Regions from separate parts of the Homo sapiens genome. Here all the other regions are linked to region 1. Evidence: fine-mapped QTL for protein levels in blood plasma. A gene starts in region 1. Each other region holds a variant in brackets. All regions are shown on one strand. Distances are from middle to middle.

Region 1 (5,132 bases):
ACCCCACCTCTGCTAAATATACAAAAATTAGCCAGGTGTGGTGGCAGGCGCCTCTAGTCCCAGCTACTCAGGAGGCTGGGAAAGGAGAATCCTTGAGCCCAGGAGGCAGAGGTTGCAGCGAGCTGAGATGGCATCATCTCTACACTCTAGCCTGGGCGACAGAGCGAGACTCTGTCTAAAAAAAAAAAATGGCGCTTCCTTCCAAGGTGGGAGACAGAGATAAAAGAGGGGTAGGGAAATTCTCTGAATTGGCAGAACTGGTAGTAGAAGCAAGGCTCATTCCTGGATAAACAGAAATGGTGAGAGAAGAAATGGGAAAAATCAAGGACATCCCTGCAGTGACAGCTGTGGAGGGTGGGGAGTTTACTATGCTAGACTATGTAGGGAAACGCCTCCTGGCTTGACAGGTTAGGTGCCTGTGTTGACAACGGTTGCTGAGAGCTCAAGGTGAAAAGAGGGATAGTTCCAGGAAATGATAACCCTGGTGATAAACTATCCCTGCCCTCCCTATCTTCATTGTACAGGCCTAGAAACTCGTGACGACAGAGGTTAGGTGACACCTGCGTGGCACAGTTCGTCTGGAGGGTGACAGGGGCAAGCCTTCATCACTAGCAGGGCCAAAAATCCCTAAAGCCTCAGGACTGGGGCAGGCCTCAGAGCACTCGTTCACAGTTTGTTTCCATCATTTTATTTTTTTGCGGAGAAGGGAGTCTCGCTATGTTGCCCAGGCTAGTCTCCAACTCCTGGACTGAAGCGATCCTCCTGTCTCGGCCTCCCAGAGTGCTGGGATTACAGGCACCGCACTAGGGGCCACACGCGGCCCCATCATTTTAATAATTCATAATTACCACGCTTAGAAACCTGCCTCAGATTCATTCCCCCCGCAGCAACACCCACCATCCACCCTCCTGTCCCCTCCCCCATGCACAGCCCTTACATCTGCTCTTCAGGGATCTCAACTAGGGCACATGGTCTGGCCAGTGAGGAGCCTTCAACTAGTGCGGCCAGAACGCTGAAGGCCGGATACAAGGAGCCTCGGTGTCCAGGCAGGGGATTTGGGGTTGCCTGAGATTGGGGCGGGGAAAGCCGGAGACAGTGGGCACAGATGGCGAGGGGTTCACCTCCCCAACACCCCCAACCCAGCCCAGTCTCCGAGGCCCGAGTGGCTGCTTTTTGCGCCACCTGGCGGCCGTCTCCAGCGAGCGGAGCGCGGGTGACCGTGCCTGCGGGACCCGGTTCCCGTGGGGCGAGCGGGCGTGGGGCCCGCCCAGCTTGGAGAGCCGGGAACCGCGCGGCCCAGGGACTGGCAAGACTCCGGATTCAACCCCTGCGAGGCCCCGCAACCCGGTGCCCGCGGTCCCTGGCGGCGGCGCCCGCGTGCCCGAGGCGCTGCGGGGCGCTGCGGGGCGCGCGGCGGTTAGAGCGAGCGTGTGCGCACGCGCCCACCCCACGCCGCGCCCCGCACCGCCGCGCGCGCGCACGCACGCCCGACGCTGGCCTGCGCCGGCCGCTCTCCCACGCGGGGTCTCGGGGGCTCCTGAGCCGGCCGCCTCCAGGAAGCAGGCGCCGCGCGGTATTGCCGCATGCACCTCGGTCGTGGGGACCCCGCTGCAGCAGCCCTGTCCACACGGGTGAACTCCTGGAGGGCGGGGCGGGGGGCAATCTGCGCGGGTCAGGCCCCTCGGAGCAGGCTGGGGGCGCCCGAGCCAGGCCGCTCCCACCTGCCAGCCGCGTGGCCAATGAATGCTAGGCCTGGTGATGTCATGCCCCGACCGGACCCTGGTGACGAAAGTCCGAAGTCACCCGTCAGGGAACCAGCACAGACCCACCCGCGGGGGTTCCAGAAGTTTCCACTGCCGCCGCGGAGTGCGGCCTCGCCCAGCAGCCTTGCGCGTGCTACCACGCTGTCCTGCCTTCTCAGGTGTCCCAAGTCACCCCTTCCTCCCCCAGGGGTCTCCTGTCTCCATGCCCTCCCACCTCATTTCCACTAGCGATCCCATTTTACATCTCCATTCCCACAGGTGTCCTTTCATCCCCAGGAGTGTCCCACGTCACCTTTTCTGCACCCGTGCCACCTGGACCCCTAAGGGGACGGTACTCTGCCACACTCCCACATGCCTCTCCTCCCATGCCACCCGTCTGTGTCGTGGCCGGGGATGCATGACCCCTTGGCCTTGCGCTAACTTCACCAGCCTCGAGCGAGACCGACAGGGTGTCCAAGTGTGTCCGTCCGTCTGTGAAAGTCGTCCCTGCGTTTGTCTGTGCCTGTCACTGCATGAGGTCGTCCGTCTGCGCGTGTCTGTCTCCACGGGCTTCTGTCCGTCTGTCTGTCACGTGGGTGTCTACTCCGCCGCTGCAGGTCTTTGGGTCGCGTCTGTCACTGCGCTCTGTCGTCGGTCGGCGTCTGGCACTGGAGTGCGTCTGGGCCCCGGGGTCTCCGGGTCTCGGCTCCAAGGGAGGGAGAGAGAGGGGAGGTGGCCACCCGGGAGAGCGGGGAGGGGCGGGGGCGGAGACAGTGGGCGGGGGCGGGCGGGGGCGCTGTGAGGCCCGGAGGGGGTGTGTGCGGGGGGCCGGAGGCGGCGGCTGTCAGAGTCGGCTCAGCCTGCGCCGGGGAACATCGGCCGCCTCCAGCTCCCGGCGCGGCCCGGCCCGGCCCGGCTCGGCCGCCTCAGGTGAGTCTCCCTCCCCGCCCGGGACTCTCCTTAAGGCCCGGGTCCGGGGCACCGTGCGCTCCCCGAGGGGTCCAGGCCCCCCTAACGGGACGGCTCCCGCTTCCCCGGGCCTGCCCCGCGCCGCCCTCCGCTGCCCCGCACTCGTCCGGAACTCTTCCCCGGCCGCCTCACACTCACCGACGCCCACGCAGGAGCCCGAGCCCGCGGGAACGGCCGCCGCCTCTGCGCTCCGATTCCCGCGGGGACCCCCGAGCACCCCTTCCCCGATCGCTCCCTAGTCCGGGGCCACTGGAAGACACCCCCTAATTGGGGCGGTACCCGAGCTGCGCAGGTTCCCGGCGCCGGGCTGGGCACCCCCATCCCCAGGGCCACAAGCCAGCGCCCCTGCGCAGCGCCCCGCAGAGGCCCCCTCCGAGGCCCAGGACGCCCCCTCCCGCGGAGACTCCATCTCTATTTTTTGGGAAGGGGAGGCTCGGCGGAAGCCCCGAGTTATAATTAGCGCCACTCGGGTTTCCTAGTTAATCTCCAGCAGCACCACCACCCCCCGCTCAGGGCGGCGGGGGCTGGGCTAGGAGTGACCGGCGGGAGAGGGGGGAGTTCCCACCCGGGGAATTTTGATCCTTTGGCTGGAGATGCCGGAACCGTAGCAGCTGCTGCCCCCAAAATAGCGCCCCCGCCCCTGCAGCCGGGGATCTCCGGAGTCCCGGGAACGCAGGCGTCCCGGCTCGCCCTTCAGGCGGCTCTGCAAGGCCCTCGAGCCCCCAGGCCCCCTCCCCAAGTTCCCGGCTCCTGGCTCGGGGCGGGGAGCGCCGACCTTTTCTCGGTCTCTACTGCCCTCCGCCGGCGGCGGCGTGCACGGCAGCTTCAGACGGATGGGGGGCTCTCGAGTCCTGGGGGACGCGGGCTGGCGAGCCTGTTTGCTGGGGCTGGGCTGGGAGCGTGCGCAGCTGATGGGAACCCGCGGGCATCAGCGCTCGGTGCCAGACATTGGATGAGAAGGGGCAGGGTTGGGTGGGGAGTGGACTAGGCAGGATTTGGGGGACCCCGGGACCTGAGGCTTCCACACCCTGAATGCCCAGCCCACCGCCCCCCAGGGCCCCGGGTCTGGCCGACCCAGGAGAGCGGGGCTGCGCTTCAGGCCGCCGCAAGCTCCCCCAGCGGCGCTGCCCGTCCGTGAGGCCGCGCCCTGTCGGGTGGCCTGTTCGTGGACTGAGGCTTCTGGTGCCCTCACTGCACGAGCTGGGCCCGGCCCAGTTCCGGGAAGAGGTGAGGGCAGTGGACCCCTGCGGAGCAGAGAGGGTGCTCCTCTCTGTTCCCTGCATTTGTCTGGATATGGGTGTCTGCCTGATCTCTTTCCCCTCCTGCCCGCTGGCCTGTGTCCTTGTCTCTGCCTGTCTCCTTCCCTCCCTCCCTCTCTCCCCTCATCTTTGCCAACCTGCCCCACCTCCTCTGCAGCTGAGCGATAACCCTTGGGCCGACAGTGCCCTAATCTCCTCCCTCCTGGCTTCTCGACCGACCCTTCACCCTTTCCCTTTCTTTCTCCCAGCAGACGCCGCCTGCCCTGCAGCCATGAGGCCCCCGCAGTGTCTGCTGCACACGCCTTCCCTGGCTTCCCCACTCCTTCTCCTCCTCCTCTGGCTCCTGGGTGGAGGAGTGGGGGCTGAGGGCCGGGAGGATGCAGAGCTGCTGGTGACGGTGCGTGGGGGCCGGCTGCGGGGCATTCGCCTGAAGACCCCCGGGGGCCCTGTCTCTGCTTTCCTGGGCATCCCCTTTGCGGAGCCACCCATGGGACCCCGTCGCTTTCTGCCACCGGAGCCCAAGCAGCCTTGGTCAGGGGTGGTAGACGCTACAACCTTCCAGAGTGTCTGCTACCAATATGTGGACACCCTATACCCAGGTTTTGAGGGCACCGAGATGTGGAACCCCAACCGTGAGCTGAGCGAGGACTGCCTGTACCTCAACGTGTGGACACCATACCCCCGGCCTACATCCCCCACCCCTGTCCTCGTCTGGATCTATGGGGGTGGCTTCTACAGTGGGGCCTCCTCCTTGGACGTGTACGATGGCCGCTTCTTGGTACAGGCCGAGAGGACTGTGCTGGTGTCCATGAACTACCGGGTGGGAGCCTTTGGCTTCCTGGCCCTGCCGGGGAGCCGAGAGGCCCCGGGCAATGTGGGTCTCCTGGATCAGAGGCTGGCCCTGCAGTGGGTGCAGGAGAACGTGGCAGCCTTCGGGGGTGACCCGACATCAGTGACGCTGTTTGGGGAGAGCGCGGGAGCCGCCTCGGTGGGCATGCACCTGCTGTCCCCGCCCAGCCGGGGCCTGTTCCACAGGGCCGTGCTGCAGAGCGGTGCCCCCAATGGACCCTGGGCCACGGTGGGCATGGGAGAGGCCCGTCGCAGGGCCACGCAGCTGGCCCACCTTGTGGGCTGTCCTCCAGGCGGCACTGGTGGGAATGAC
Region 2 (5,149 bases), 37 kb before region 1:
TTCCATTCTGAGAGAACAAGTAGCTTCTCAATCAGCAACCCAAAGCGATCACTTCACCAATGCTGACAGCCTACACTCAAGGGAAACATGCTAGACACCCCCATAGTTCTCATGTAAAATTCTATTATTGTCAAGTTTTAAACAACCTATTTCTTTTTTTTTCTTTTTTCTGAGATGGAGTTTCGCTATGTCTCCCAAGCCGGCATGCAGTGGCGTGACCTTGGCTCACTGCAACATCCACCTCCTAGGTTCAAGCAATTTCCCTGCCTCAGCCTCCCGAGTAGCTGGGAATACACGCGTGCACCACCATGCCCAGCTAATTTTTATGTTTTCAGTAGAGACAGGGTTTTGCCATGTTGGCCAGGCTGGTCTCAAACTGCTGACCTCAAGTGATCCACCTGCCTCAGCCTCCCAAAGTGCTGGGATTACAGGGGTGTGCCACCACACCTAGCAACCCATTTCTTTGGACTCCAAATTTGCTGATTTAATTTCTAGAAACTGAAAAATCCAGCGTGAGGTCACGGGACTGCATGTGTTTCCATGGGCGTTCTGGTGCAAAAAATAGAATAGTAAAATAAAATAAAATAAACGATCAAACAAGAAAAACCTCAGATTGTGAAAATGCAGAGAGAGAGAGGGGTACAGTATTCTAAACTAAAGCATCATTTGGGAGAAACTTTCTAGATAATGTTGAAGATTGGACAATTCCTAGGTGCCATCCTGTTTGAATCTAATCATCATGAAATTGCCTTTGGAGATTGTCTATAAAAAGAAACCCTGTTTGTTTTGTTTTTGTTTTTGTGAGACAGAGTCTCACTCTGTCACCCAGGCTGGAGTGCAGTGGCTTCATCTTGGCTCACTGCAACCTCAGTCTCCCAGGTTCAAGCCATTCTCCTGCCTCAGCCTCCTGAGTAGCTGGGATCAGAGGCCCATGCCACCATGCCAAGCTAATTTTGTATTTTTAGTAGAGGTGGGGTTTCACCATGTTGGTCAGGCTGGTCTAGAACTCCCGAGGTTTCCCCATGTTGGCCAGGTTAGTCTTATTCTCCTGACCTCAAATGATCCACCCGCCTCAGCCTCCCAAAGTGCTGGGATTACAGGAGTAAGCCCCCCAGCCAGGAAACCCTGTTTTGACAGCAAGGTTAATGGAGTTCTGTGGACTGGCTCCTGATGGGCAGGCCGAATAGCAGCAGGGCTGTGAATACCTCGGCAGTGGCTTTCATGGGTGAGTGGGACCATCTGATGGGCTGGGCAGGGCTCCCTGGATGGGTGGGGTTTCTTGGATGGCTGTGGCTTGCTGGCAGGTGGGGCTTCTTGGGTGGGCAGGGCTTCTTGAGTGGGTGTGGTTTCCTGGATGGGGCGTGGCTTCACGGGTGGGTGCAGTCTTACCACAGGGCCAGACCCCTAGGTAGGGGGAGGTAGAAATCCTCCTAGCCAGGTAGCTGGTACAGAAGCAGATGGTTGGTGGGGAAAGGAGTGGGGAAGGGACAGTTAATCTGGTAACTAAGAGCCTCTGGCCACAGTAACTCCAGAGTTGGACCACAGACACTATATTTGCTGCAAGGAGGGAGGATGGTACCAGAAGACACTGGAGTTGGGAGGACCAACCCCCAGGACCCTAACCCACTGTGCCCAGGTGGGAAACTGGTAACCTGGCCAAGGAGAGTGGTTTGGAGACCCCACTGAAACCGCCTTTGCAAAAATTATGACAGAGGCCGGGTGCAGTGGCTCACACCTGTAATCCCAGCACTTTGGGAGGCCAAGGTAGGTGGAGTGCTTGAGGTCAGGAGTTCGAGACCAGCCTGGCCAACATGGCAAAACCCGTCTCTACTAAAACTTAGCCGGACATGGTGGCAGGTGCCTGTAATCCCAGCTACTCAGGAGGCTGAGACAGGAGAATCACTCGAATCTGGGAGGTAGAGGTTGCAGTGAGCCGAGATCACCCCACTGTACTCCAGCCTGGGTGACAGAGTAGGACTCTGTCTTTAAAAAAAAAGAAAAAAGAAATTATGACAGTGAGTAAGACC[C/T]GACACAGGAAAATGATGGCAGTAAAATAATGTAATCTAGCTGACTTCTTCTTGCTTCTAGCCTCTAAACTGTCCTTGTTCATTCCTGGGCATAGGCTAGGTTAACTTGGGGAGGAATTTAATTTATGGTTTAAACTTAAAGCAAGGATGATAATAGCCCTTCCCAAAACTACCACCTGTTTGTTCTGGGACCAAACTGCCTTTGTAAAACTAATGACAACTCACAAGATTAGGATTATGGGGGTGTCTGAACTCTGCTAAAATGAAGCTAAAAGTTCAGCCATTGAGCTGGGTGCGGTGGCTCACGCCTGTAATCCCAGCACTTTCGAAGGCCGCGGGGGGAGGGGGGATGCGGATCATGAGGTCAGGAGTTCGAGACCAGCCTGGCCAACGTGGTGAAACCCCGTCTCTACTAAAAATACAAAAAAATTAGCCGGGTAGATGGTGAGCCTCTACCTCCCAGATTCAAGTGATTCTCCTGCCTCAGCCTCCCAAGTAGCTGGGACTACAGGCATGCACCACCAACCCCGGCTAATTTTTTTGTATTTTAGTAGAGACGGGGTTTCACCACGTTGGCCAGGCTGGTCTCAAACTCCTGACCTCATGATCTGCCTGCCTCGGCCTCCCAAAGTGCTGGGATTACAGGTGTGAATCACCGCACCCGGCCTCTTGAAAGTATTTTTACTAGGTATAGAATTCTAAGTTGACAGTTTTTTTTTTTTTCAGCACATGAATAAGATTCCATTGTCTTCCGGCTTCAAGGTTGCTATACAGAAGACTGAGCTTAATCTGTCAGGCCTTTAATTTTTTTTCTCTTGCTGCTTTAAGACTTTCTGTTTCGTTAATATTCTGAAGCTTCACCAGGATGTTTCTGGGCATGGATTTCTTTGTATTTATCATGCTTGGGATTCCTTGGCTTCTCAAAGCTGATAAGGTCTCTTCTCAGTTTGGGAAACTTGCCAGCCATTCTCTCTTCACATATTTTCTCTTCCCCCGTTAACTCTTTTCTCCAGGAACTGCAATTAAATAGAGGTTAACCCTTCCCTTTCTATTCTTCATGTGTTTTTAACTACTCTTCCGTATTTTCTGTCTCATAGCTGCTCATGAAGCATGTGGTGAGTTTCTTCTGTTCTCTCAGTTTACAGATTCTCTCTTCAGCTCTGTCTAATCTGCCACTAAAACCTCCTAATAAGTTTGTTTGTTTTTTTTTTTTTTTTTTTGAGATGGAGTCTCTCTCTGTCACCCAGGCTGGAGTGCAGTGGCACGATCTCGGCTCACTGCAACCTCCGCCTCCCGGGTTCACACCATTCTCCTGCCTCAGGCTCCTGAGTAGCTCGGACTACAGGCGCCTACCACTGCCACCACACCCAGCTAATTTTCCTTCGTACTTTCTTAGCAGAGATGGGGTTTCACTGTGTCAACCAGGATGGTCTTGATCTCCTGACCTCATGCTAATAAGTTTTTCAATAAACAAATCTACATTTTAATAAGTTATTGGATACACACATGTATTTATTACTGAAAATGGAAATAACATATCAAAATATCCTCCTTTCGCTATTCAAGTTTGTTGGGTTCTTTTGTTTGTTTTTTGAGACTGAGTCTCATTCTTTTGCCCAGGCTGGAGTGCAGTGGTGCCATCTCAGCTAACTGCAACCTCCACCTCCCAGGTTTAAGTGATTGTCCTGCCTCATCCTCCTGAGTAGCTGGGATTACAGGCATGCACCACCATGCCTGGCCAATTTTTGTATTTTTAGTAGAGACTAAAAATAGTTTCACCATGTTGGCCAGGCTGGTCTCAAACTCCTGACCTCAAGTGATCCGCCCGTCTTGGCCTCCAAAAGTGCTAAGATTGCAGGCATGAGCCACTGCACCCAGCCTCAATATTCAAGTTTTTTTAAAGGTAAAGACACATCTAGCTACATGTACCCTTCTCTAATGTTATGCTTTATCCAAACTACCCAATGTAAACTCATTTTATATATTCCTTCCACATAAATTTCTTTACTTCAAGTGTTTGATGTTAGGTCTGCTCTCATCTCATTGACTTCAGGATTCTAAACCATACATGTAATCCATGAGAACTTGTACTACCTGGAGCCAAATCAAAAACTAGAACTGAGATACCAAAGCATCAAATTACAAAGAGGGACAAAGGGAAAAAAAAAAATTTACGTAGTCAAAATCATATTTTGAGTTATTAAAAATTATTGGATTTTTGCTGGGCACAATGGCTCACGCCTGTAATCCCAGCACTTTGGGAGGCCGAGGTGGGCAGATCCTGAGGTCGGGAGTTTGAGACTAGCCTGGCTAACATGGTGAAACTCCATCTCTACTAAAAATACAAAATTAGCCAGGCGTGGTGGCATGTGCCTGTAATCCCAGCTGGTCAGGAGGCTGAGGCAGAAGAATCACTTGAACCTGGAAGGCAGAGGTTGCAGTGAGCCGGGATTGTACCACTGCACTCCAGCCTGCGTGGCAGAGTGAGACTCATCTCCAAACAATAACAATAAAAATAAAAATTATTGGATTTATGCTTTCACTTAGAGTAAAAAAGCCACAAGAGGCTGGGCATGGTGACTGACACCTGTAATCCCAGCATTTTGAGAAGCCAAGGCAGGAGGATCGTTTGAGGCCAGGAGCTCAAGACCAGCCTGGGCAGCCTAGCAAGGCCCCCATCTCTACAAAAAGTGCAATAAAATTAATACATAAAATAAATCCACAAGAGACTATCACTCCTACCATAAAAAGAAGAAAAAGCTGGGTAATCTATAGGTTTTGGCATTTCTTGAGCCCATCAGAAATTTAGGCTTCAAGGCAACCAGGTGAACTGAGGTCCAAAGAGTGACCGCACCCTCTCAGGAGAGACAGGACACATGAAAAGTTCCACCTTTGTCAGAGCACAGGAGGAAGAAGTGGCCACCAAAAAAGCAGGTGATAGGAAAACAACATTTTAATGAATTCTCAGAGGCCAGGAGTGGGCCAGCATGACAACTTAGAATCCCCCTGGGTGCATCAGGATCTAGCAGACCCCAAGTTCACTCGCAATCTCTTTTCCACCTCTTGGTGCTCATGAGAAAGATTGGAGGTACAATGAGACAAGAAAGAGGCTCCCTCAGTGG
Region 3 (5,149 bases), 55 kb before region 1:
ATGGCAGTTGTGGATGTGCTGACTGTGGAGTAGATGGTTGATGAAGAGAAGCTGGGAGTACTGTGGGAGGAGATCTCAGTGGTGGTGGTTACCAAGTTTGTCATAGGAGTCGTGGCTGTTTCTGTGGTTGGGAGAGAGGAAGAGGTGGGTGGGAGAGAAGTCTCTGTGGACAATGTACCTGTCATACTTGTGGAGTAGGCGATTTTGGTAGTGGAGTCTGTGACAGTGCTGGTGGGAGAAGTAGTGTAGGTGGTCTCAGATGTAGGTGTAGACCTGCTGATGGTAGTGGGGAGTGTGGTCACCAAGGTGGATAGGGGGGTGGTGTTTGTGATACCACTGGTGATTGTTTCTGTGCTCAGGACAGGTGTGGAAGATAAAATGGTCCTAGTGGGTGATGACAATGTATTAGTGGCTGTGGGCTGGGAGGCGGTCGTTGTCATAGAAGTCACTGTATTTGTGGAAGTGATTGAAGAAGTGATGGGGGAAGTGGAAGTCACTGCTGTTTTGAGAGTAGTAAATACTGGGGTTGGGGACGTGGTTGTATGGATGCTTCCAGTGGGCAGGGGAGTCCTTTCTGTGGTTCTAGTTGTAGACGAGATTGTAGTGTGGAAGGTTGTGTCTGTGGCTGACACAGAGGAGGGTGTCACTGTCACTATGGGAGTTTCCCTTGCAGTGGTGGTAGAGGGAGAAGATGTCATGGCTGACGTTCCTTTCTCAGTAGTGGTCATAGAGTAAGTACTGGTGACGGTGGTCACTGGCTTCTGTGTCACGGGAGTCGAGGTGTAAGAGCTGGTGAAGGCCACCTGCGTCGTGGTCACACAGATGGAGGTGGGGTGGGAGATGGTGATTATAAAGCTCGTTGGATACACGCACTCAGTGGTGGCTGAATAGACCAACACGGTGGGTGGAGTGGTTTCAACCTTGAAGGCAAACTTGGACGTCGGGGTGGTTGAGGTGTTGGAACTGACTGGAGAGTTGAGCAATGTTTCAGAGATGAGTGTGTCATGGGGGGAGGTAGTGAGTGTCATAGGTGCATTTTCCCTGTGGCCAGGAGCAGGAGAGGCGAGCTGGGGGACACCAAGTGGCCACCCAGCCAGGTCTCTGGAGTGTGGAGAATTGCTGAGCACAGCGCTGGCTGCTTCTGCTCTGGGGAAAGGCACTTGAGAGATGGATGTGGCCGTGGATAAAGTTCCTGCATTGGCGGCAGAGCAGAGGAATCCACTGGTAAATCCGTGGGTCATTTTGTTACATCACTCATGTAAGCTACTCACTCACCCATTTTCCAGGCAGCATCACAGAGGGCAGGGCATATTACAGCTGACTCCTGCATCAGAGGCAGCTTGGAGCTGGGTGCTTTGTGGTGCTGGAGACGACTGCCTGTCTGCTCCTAGGGGAGCAGTGGGGCATGGGAGCCCTCATTCCTCACCGGGCCTTGGCCTTGTCATGGCAGGTCCTCCTGTCCTGATATAGCCGAGCTGGGCAGAGCCTCCCTCCCCTCCCTTCCCTCCTCTGGTCACACCCAGGCTCCTCCTCCCTCTGCCCCTTCCTCTCCTCCCCCTGCTACTGCCTGGAGTGCTCCCATCCCCCCATTAACCTTCTGCTCCCACCACTGCTTCTCCCGGCACCCTGCTGCTGTCTGGGCTGACTCCGCTTTCAAAGAGAAAAAGAGAGAACCCAGCCATGTCCTGGCAGGGGGCGCATCACAAAAACCAGGAGACAGGGAAAGCTGAACAAAGAGGGCCAGGCACGGTGGCTCATGCCTGTAATCCCAGCACTTTGAAAGGCCAAGGCAGGAGATCACTTGAGGTCAGGAGTTCGAGACCAGTCTGACCAACATGGTGAAACCCTTTCTCTACTAAAACAAAATACAAAAATTAGCCAGGCGTAGTGGCGTGTACCTGTAGCTGAGGCAGGAGAATCGCTTGAACCCAGGAAGCAGAGGCTGCAGTGAGCTGAGATGGTGCCACTGCACTCCAGCCTGGGTGACAGAGCAAGACTCCATCAAAAACAAAAACAAAAACAAAAA[CAAAAAA/A]CTGCCCAGAGAACACCAAAGAGAAACAGGCTAAGCTCACACACTAATGACTTCAAAGGGCATGGAGTGAGGACTAGGTGAAGAGGCAGAGAGACAGCATAGAAAAGGAAACTTCCAGAAGGAGCTACCTCAGCAGTCAGGCGTGATGAGTTCTGGAGACCTTAAGGCTTAGCAGTGAGTGTTCATCACACAAATAGACATATTTTTCTATACTATTCCCTTTTGGCCGTGGGATTCATTAGTTTACAAGCATGAACCCCAGCATGTGGATTTCAACCCATTTCACAATTTGTCAGAGTTAGGATCAGAGATCCGGCTGTCGGGGGTGTCAGGGACAAGGAAGACAGGCAGCCACAGCAGATGGGAAGTGGGAGGTACCCGACCTGCTACCCCTCACCTCGGGCACAGCCCATCTTGTGGCTGAGAGCTGGGGTGTCACGTCTCAACCTAGCTCGTGGGTGCCAGGGAAGTGGGGTCAGGGATTATGAGAATCCCCAGGCTACAGCCCTTGGCTCCAGGATGTGGCCCTGGAGGTGACTGAGAAGGGGACTCATGGGCCTGTAGGCTGGGTGGCCTGGGATCGGGGATCAGAAGCAGACACTGAAGTACAGAGAAAAGAGAAGTATAGAGGAATTGCGAGGTGTTCCTGCAGGGCAGAAGAGAGAAGCCTGGGACCCCACGACGGGTAGTCTCAGACGCACCCTTGGAAGCGAAGTGGACATCAGGAGCTCCCTGCCCCGGCCCTGGTACCAACAGCTGTACCCAGACACATGGGCCCTGGCCGGGGTAAGAGAGTGACGGCAGAGCTGGGGAGGAGCCGCCGGGGGACAAAAGGCAGAGAGGCTGAAACCAGAGGACCGAGACCAGGGGTAGAAGTTAGAGGGCTGTCAGGGAGGGAGAGGCCAGTGTGAAGGGGACACTCAAGCTGGGGGCGTGAGGCAGGTGACAGAAGGAGTCAAGACAGGAAGGGCACTGCTCTGGGAAGACGTAAATCCCACCCTCTACCCTCCAGCTGCAGATACAGATTGGGGCTCAGCCGCTGCAACCTGCTCAGTGCTTGGTGGAGAGTGGCAGAGACCCAGCTCCCTCACTCTTTCCCAACCTCGGTTTTCCCTGCACCTGGAGCTCTGGAAGAAACCTCTCCTCACCGCCCCCTCCCCCAGTCAGGCCGTGCCTCGGTTCTCCCTGCACCCAGAGCCCCAAGCGGTGCCTTCTTATCCCCCCTCCCCAGGCCTTACAGCCACTTTTCCCTCCCCTTTCCTGGAACATCACATCAGGAGCTTTTCTCCAACCCCCTTCCGCCTCTCCCCCTTACCTGTGGCCCACGGGGAGGCCTTGAGCATCCAGAGGAGGCCGAGGAGCCCCAACAGCTGCATGGGCCCAGCGGGCAGGGGGCTGGGGCAGAACAGGCTTCAGGACCAAGACAGCGGCAGGGACGTGGCCCTGGGGCGTGCACGTAATGAAAGTGCTGGTTATCGGTTTTGCTGAGCGTCAGGGCTGAGCACAGCCTCACCTTTGCACCGCCCCACCTCTCCCCTCTTCCTCCCTTCTCCCTGCACCCGGACAGACAGACGTCAGCGCTGTGGGAAGCGGGACACGGGGGAAAAAGATAGGACAAGTCCAGGAAGTGTCAGGCAGGAAGAGCTGCTATTGGCTCAGCCCCACAGCCTGCCTGGCCCACATGGAACTGCCTGGAAGCTGCCCTTCCTCCCCGACACCCGTGGAGGGTACCCTTGACCGAGGGCTTGGACTCTGGAGTCTGGTCCTACTCCTGCAGCCTCTCCTGAGTTTCAATTCCTCCTGCTGGGGAGACAGTGGCACCTCGCTCTCCTTCAAGCCCCTTCTGTCCCTCAGTCTGCCCCTGCTCCATCCTGTCCCCCGCAGGACCCCATAGGCCAGAAAAAACCGTGGGAGTAATTAACACAGAATTCCATCTGAAGTCATTTTATTATCTGAAGAGTTGGGGCTAGGTCCCAGAAAAGGAAACATGGATGACCAAAGGAAACACTCAAAAATACTAGTCTGGGCCCGGCGCGGTGGCTCACGCCTGTATTCCCAGCACTTTGCAAGGCTGAGGGGTGTGGATCACTTGAGGTCACGAGTTCGAGACCAGCCTGGGCAAAATGGCAAAACCCCATCTCTACTAATAGGCTGAGGCAGAAAAATCGCTTGAAACCAGAAGGTGGAGGGTGCAGTGAGCCAAGAGCACACCACTACACTCCAGCCTGAGCAACAGAGCGAGACTCCATCTCAAAAAAAAAAAAAAAAAAAAAAAACTGGTTTGGACCCAGCACATTGTTTGACCTATCCAGTTTGGGCAAAGGTGTGAAGAATAAACGTTCTTACCCAGCTGGTGGATGTGTAGGTGGGTTGGGTTGTTTTAAAAGAGTAATTTGAGGATCACTTGAGGTCAGGGGTTCGAGACTAGACTGGCCAACATAGTGAAACCCCATCTCTACTAAAAATACAAAAATTAGCCTGGCGTGGGGTGGGCACCTGTAATCCCACCTACTTGGGAGGCTGAGGCAGGAGAATTGCTTGAACCCCAGAGGCAGAGGTTGCAATGAGCTGAGATCGTGCCTCTGCACTCCAGCCTGGGCAACAGAGCGACACTTCATTTCAAAAACAAGATAAAGTAAAACAAATGTTCTTATCCAGCTGGTGGGTGTGTAGGTGGGTTGGGTTGCTTTAAAGGGGTAATTTGGTGGCATCTATTAAAATTTTAAATGAGTGCCTTAGGACCCAGCAATTTCACCCTCCATCTCTGTGTCCAAGAAACCCTTCAAGGCAGCATTCATGAGGATGTTTATTGACTCTCGATTATGGCAATTTTGATGGAAATTGGAAACAGCCCAAACGATTGTTTCAACCCAGAAAGAAGATGGAATAGTCACCCTACAGAACACTGTGCTCAGGCCAGATTCAGTGGCTTACGCCTGTAATTCCAGCACTTTGGGAGGCCGGGGCAGGAGGATCTCTTGAGCCCAAATGTTCCAGGCCAGCCTGGGCAACATGCCAAGACCCCATCTCTACCAAAAAAAAAAAAAAAACACAAAAAAAATTAGCCAGGCATAGTGGTGTGCCCCTGTGGTCTCAGCTACTTGGTAGGCCAAGATG
Region 4 (5,149 bases), 43 kb before region 1:
ATTCTTGAATTGCAAGCCCAGATATCTATAGCATGATTGGTCTTAGTGAATTTATTGAGGTGTACGTTTTATTTAAAAGTATGTGGTGGCTCACGCCTGTCATCCCAGCACTTTGGGAAGCTGAAGAGGGTGGATCACAAGGTCAGGAGATCAAGAACATCCTGGCTAACGTGGTGAAACCCCATCTCTACTAAAAATACAAAAAATTAGCCAGACGTGATGGCAGGCGCCTGTAGTCCCAGCTACTCAGGAGGCTGAGGCAGGAGAATGGCATGAGCCCGGGAGGCAGAGCTGGCAGTGAGCCGAGATTGCACCACTGCACTCTAGCCTGGGTGACAGAGCAAGACTCCATCTCAAAAAAAGAAAATGAATAAAAAGACAAGAAAATGTGGCACATATATACCATGGAATACTATGCAGCCATAAAAAAGGATGAGTTCATGTCCTTTGCAGGGACATGGATGAAGCTGGAAACCATCATTCTTAGCAAACTATCGCAAGGACAGAAAGCCAAACACTGCATGTTCCCACTCATAGGTGGGAATTGAACAATGAGAACACTTGGTCACAGGGCAGGAACATCGCACACTGGACTTTGTTGGGGGCTGGCGGGCTGGGGGAGGGATGGCATTAGGAGAAATACCTAATGTAAATGACGAGTTGATGGGTGCAGCAAACCAGCATGGCACATGTATACCTATGTAACAAACCTTCATGTTGTGCACATGTATCCTAGAATTTAAAGTATAATAAAAAAAATCATACCACGGTCTTTCCTATAGAAAGATCTAAGCTTGCTAATATGACTGAATTGCTTTACTATTGAATTCCAGCAAACACTTAAGGAAGAAATCATACCAACTGTACACAAACTCTTTCAGAAAATGGAACACTTCCCAACTTTGTTTATGAGCCCAGCATTATTCTGATACCAAACCAAGACAAATACATTACAAGAAAACTAGACCGATAGCCCTAATGAATATAGACACAAAAATCCTCAAGGAAATATTATGAAATAAAACATAGCAATACATAAAAATAATGCATCATGACCAAGTGGGGTTAATCCCAGGGATACAAAGCTGGTTAAACATTTGAAAATGAATCAATGTAATTTCTTATGTCAACAGTCTAAAGATGAGAAACCACATGATCATTTCCATAGATGCAGGAAAAGCATTTGACAAAATCTGACGTCCATTACTGATAAAAGCTCTCCGAAAACTAGTAAATAGAAGGAACTTCCTCAACCTATTAAAGGACAGCTACAAAAAAGAAAAAAAAAATCAGCAAAGTATCTTAGTCTGTTCAGGCTGCTGCAACAAAATACTGTAAACTGGGTAGTTTATAAACAACAGACATTTATTCTCATAGTTCTAGAGGCTGGGAAGTCCAAGATCAAGGCAGATTTTGTGTCTAGTGAGATCCTGCTTTCTGGCTTATAGACAGTTCCTTCTTTCTGTGTCTTCACATGGTAGAAGGGCAAGGGTCTTTCTAGGTCTCCTTTTTTTTTTTTTTTTTTTTTTTTTCCTGAGACAGAGTCTCACTGTGTCACCCAGGCAGGCTTGGGGCTCACTGCGACCTCTTCCTCCCAGGATCAATGATTCTCCTGCCTCAGCCTCCCAAGTAGCTGGGACTACAGTCATGTGCCACCATGCCCTGCTAGTTTTTGTACTTTTAGTAGAGATGTATTTCACCATGTTGGCCAGGCTGGTCTCGAACTCCTGACCTCAAGTGATCCACCTACCTCAGCCTCCCGAAGTGCTGGGATTATGGGTATGACCTTATCTGGCCTCTGGGTCTCTTTCATAAGGGCACTAATCCCATTCATGAGGGCTCCACCACCATGGCCTAATCACCTCCTGATATGGTTTGGGTCTGTGTCCCCACCCAAATCTCATGTTAAAATGTAATCCCCAGTGCTGGAGGTGGGGCCTGGTGAGAGGTGATTGGATCATGGAGGTGAATCCTTCATAAATGGTTTAACACCATCCCCTTGGTGCTATTCTTGTGGTAGAGTTTTCATGAGCTCTGGTTGTTTAAAAGTGTGTGGCACCTCCCCACTCTCTCTCTTCCTCCTGCTCTGGCTGTGTGAAGACACCTGCTCAGGCTTTGCCTTCTGCCATGAGTAAAAGCTCCCTGAGGCCTCCCCAGCCATGCTTCCTGCATGGCCTGCAGAACCCTAAGCCAATTAAACATATATATGACCCAGTCTCAGTTCCTTCTTTTTTTTTTTTTTTTTTTTTGAGACAGAGTCTTGCTCTGTCATCCAGGCTGGAGTGCAGTGGTGCGATCTTGGCTCACTGCAACCTCCACCTCCCGGGTTCAAGTGATTCTCCTGCCTCAGCCTCCCGAGTAGCTGGGATTACAGGTGTGTGTCACCACTGCCAGCTAATTTTTGCATTTTTTAGTAGAGAGGGGTTTCACCATGTTTGCCAGGCTGGTCTCGAACTTCTGGCCTCAAGTGATTCACCCACCTCGGACTCCCGAAGTGTCAGTTATTTCTTTATAACAATGTGAGAACAGACTAAAACACCTCCTAAAGGCCCCACCTCCTGATATCATCACCTTGGGGGTTAAGATGGCAACATATATGGATTTCGGGGAGCCACAAACATTCAGACCATGGCACTAAGTACATCTATAAAGCTAAGGTCATTAATAGGTTTTTTTTATATGTTTATTTGTTTATTTTGAAACGGAGTCTCGCTCTGTCACCAGCCTGCAGTGCAGTGGCACAATCTCACCTCACTGCAACCTCTGCCTCCCAGATTCAAGTGATTCTCCTTCCTCAGCCTCCCAAGTAGCTGGGATTACAGGTACATGCCACCACACCCAGCTAATTTTGGTATTTTTAGTAGAGATGGGGTTTCACCATGTTGTCCAGGATGGTCTCGATCTCCTGACCTGGTGATCTGCCCACCTCGGCCTCCAAAAGTGCTGG[G/A]ATTACAGGTGTGAGCCACCATACCCGGCCAATCATTAATAGGTTTTGGAGGGCGATTCTTTGTTATGTCAAGACGAATCTTTCAGCTGGGCACAGTGGCTCACACTTGTAATCCTAACACTTTGGGAGACGGGAGGATCACTTGAGCCCAGGAGTTCAAGACCAGCCTGGGCAACATAGTGAGACACTGTTTTAAAAAAAAAAAATCACTGTGATTAAATGCAGCAGTGCAGAATTGCTTTTGGTTTACTATTTTGACAAGAGCCATCCACTGGTCTCATCCTAACATTTCTTATTCTATAGGTTAGGAAGTCAGTGTGGGAATTCTGCAGGGTGGTGAGGATATTAATCTCAATTTTACACTTAGATATTAGGAAAGTGACCATAGGAAGTTTGTGGGCACAGGGGCCTATAGTGAGGCAAAGTCAGGGTATAACTACATTTATCAGGGCTTTTGTTAAAAAGTCAAGAAAGGTCGGGCATGGTGGCTGACACCCATAATCCCAGCACTTTGGGAGGCTGACGCTGGCAGATCACTCGAGGTCAGGAGTTTGAGACCAGCCTGGCCCCCGTCTCTACTAAAAACACAAAAAAATTAGTCGGGCATGGTGGCACACACCTGTAATCCTGGCTACCCGGAAGGCTGAGTCAGGAGAATCACTTGAACCCGGGAAGCAGAGGTTGCAGTGAGCTGAGATGGCCCCACTGCACTCCAGCCTGGGCGACAGAGTGCGACTCCACCTCAAAAAAAAAAAAAAAAAAAAAAGTCAAAAAAAAAGACCAGGTATAGTGGCTCATGCCTGAAATCTCAGCACTTTGGGAGGCAGAGGCTAGAGGATCCCTTGAGGTCAGAAGTTGGAGACCGGCCTGGGCAACATAGTGAGACCTCATCTCTACCAAAAAAAAAAAAATTTTAAATTATCTGTGTGTGTTGGTGTAGTGTGTGCCTATAGTCACAGCTACTAAGGAAGCTGAGGCAGGAGGATTGCTTGAGCCCAGGAGTCTGAGACTGCAGTGAGCCATGATCATGCCACTCCACTCCAGCCTGGGTGGCAGAGCAAGACTTTCCTCATATATTTAAAAAAAAAAAAACAGATGGCAGCAAGGCTGTGGAGAAAAGGGAACACTCATTCACTGTTGGTCAGAATGTAAATTGTTCAGCCATTACGAAGAGCAGTTCGGATATTTCTCAAAGAACTATGAGTCGAAGTACCAACCAACCCAGCAACCCCACTACTGGGTAACTATCCCCCCAAAAAATAAATTGTTCTACCAAAAGGACACCTGCACCCATGGCACAACAGTATTCACAATAGAAAAGACATGGAATCAACCTAGATGCCCATCTATGGTGAAAAATACAGTATACATACACCATGGATTACTACACAGCCATAAAAAAGAACAAAATCATGTCCATTGCAGCAACGGGGATACAGCTGGAAACCACTAGTCTGAGCTAACTAACGCAGAAACAAAAAACCAAATAACGCTTATTCTCACTTATAAGTGGGAGCTAAATATTGGGTGCACATGGACATAAAAATAAAAACAATAGACACAGGGACTATTAGAGGTAGAAGAGAAGGAGCAGGGCAAGGGCTGAAAAAATGATCTACTGGATACTATGCTCACTACCTTGGTGACATATTCATTCATACCCCAAAACTCAGCATCACATCATATACCTTTGTAACAAACCTGCACTTGCATCCCCTTTTTCTAAAATATTAATAGAAGTTGGCTGGCCAGGCGTGGTGGCTCACGCCTGTAATCCCAGCACTTTGGGAGGCCGAGGCGGGCGGAGGTCAGGAGTTCGAGACCAGCCTGGCCACTGTGGTGAAACCCTGTCTCTGCTAAAAATACAAAAATTAGCCTGGTGTGGTGGCAGGCGCCTGTAATCCCAGCTGCTCGGGAGGCTGAGGCAGGAGAATCACTTGAACCCGGGAGGTGGAGGTTGCAGTAAGCCCGGATCGTGCCACTGCACTTTAGCCTGGGTGACAGAGTGAGACCCTGTCTTGAAAGAAAGAAAAAAAGAGAGAAAGAGAGAAAGAGAGAGAGAAAGAAAGAGAGAAAGAACAGAAAAAAAGAAAGAAAGAAAGAAAGAAGAAAGAGAAAAAGAAAATTAGTTCTTCAGTTGCATTATCCATATTTTAAGAGTACAATGCCACATATGGCTGCTGTCTGCCATATTGGATCATT

Which allele goes with the higher level. Alleles are on the strand shown, and positions count from the first base shown. The strength of an association depends on the size of the effect and on how common the allele is.
For the plasma level of the protein whose gene starts at base 2,586 in region 1, allele C in region 2 goes with a higher level than allele T (strong association).
For the plasma level of the protein whose gene starts at base 2,586 in region 1, A is the high allele of the variant in region 3 and CAAAAAA is the other (strong association).
For the plasma level of the protein whose gene starts at base 2,586 in region 1, allele G in region 4 goes with a lower level than allele A (strong association).

What was found. PIP is the chance, under the fine-mapping model, that this variant and not a neighbour inherited with it causes the effect. Protein levels are from antibody-based Olink assays in UK Biobank. Linkage for the fine-mapping came from a reference panel and not from the study's own genotypes, which makes the PIPs less certain.
Region 2: its variant is fine-mapped to the plasma level of the ACHE protein (UK Biobank, PIP above 0.99).
Region 3: its variant is fine-mapped to the plasma level of the ACHE protein (UK Biobank, PIP above 0.99).
Region 4: its variant is fine-mapped to the plasma level of the ACHE protein (UK Biobank, PIP above 0.99).

What each region holds. Positions count from the first base shown.
Region 1 is chr7:100,893,342-100,898,473 of GRCh38, reverse strand. ACHE (acetylcholinesterase (Yt blood group)) reads left to right here and starts at 2,586. Exons shown (of 5, transcript NM_000665.5): 1 at 2,586-2,672; 2 at 4,222-5,132. The coding sequence starts at 4,242. RefSeq lists silencers at 1,233-1,312, 2,535-2,684, 2,745-2,794 and enhancers at 2,149-2,769, 5,041-5,132.
Region 2 is chr7:100,930,064-100,935,212 of GRCh38, reverse strand. No RefSeq gene overlaps it. Among named protein-coding and RNA genes, the nearest start is that of MUC3A, 17 kb to the left of the region's middle. RefSeq lists an enhancer at 1,301-1,802. The variant C/T (reference allele first, on the strand shown) is at 2,028.
Region 3 is chr7:100,947,884-100,953,032 of GRCh38, reverse strand. It overlaps MUC3A (mucin 3A, cell surface associated), which reads right to left and starts at 3,499. Exons shown (of 12, transcript NM_005960.2): 1 at 3,348-3,499; 2 at 1-1,192. The coding sequence starts at 3,408. All of the region lies in intron 1 of LOC105375431 (a long non-coding RNA gene), which reads left to right. RefSeq lists enhancers at 1,407-1,952, 2,003-2,981, 2,982-3,960. The variant CAAAAAA/A (reference allele first, on the strand shown) is at 2,027.
Region 4 is chr7:100,936,224-100,941,372 of GRCh38, reverse strand. No RefSeq gene overlaps it. Among named protein-coding and RNA genes, the nearest start is that of MUC3A, 11 kb to the left of the region's middle. The variant G/A (reference allele first, on the strand shown) is at 2,948.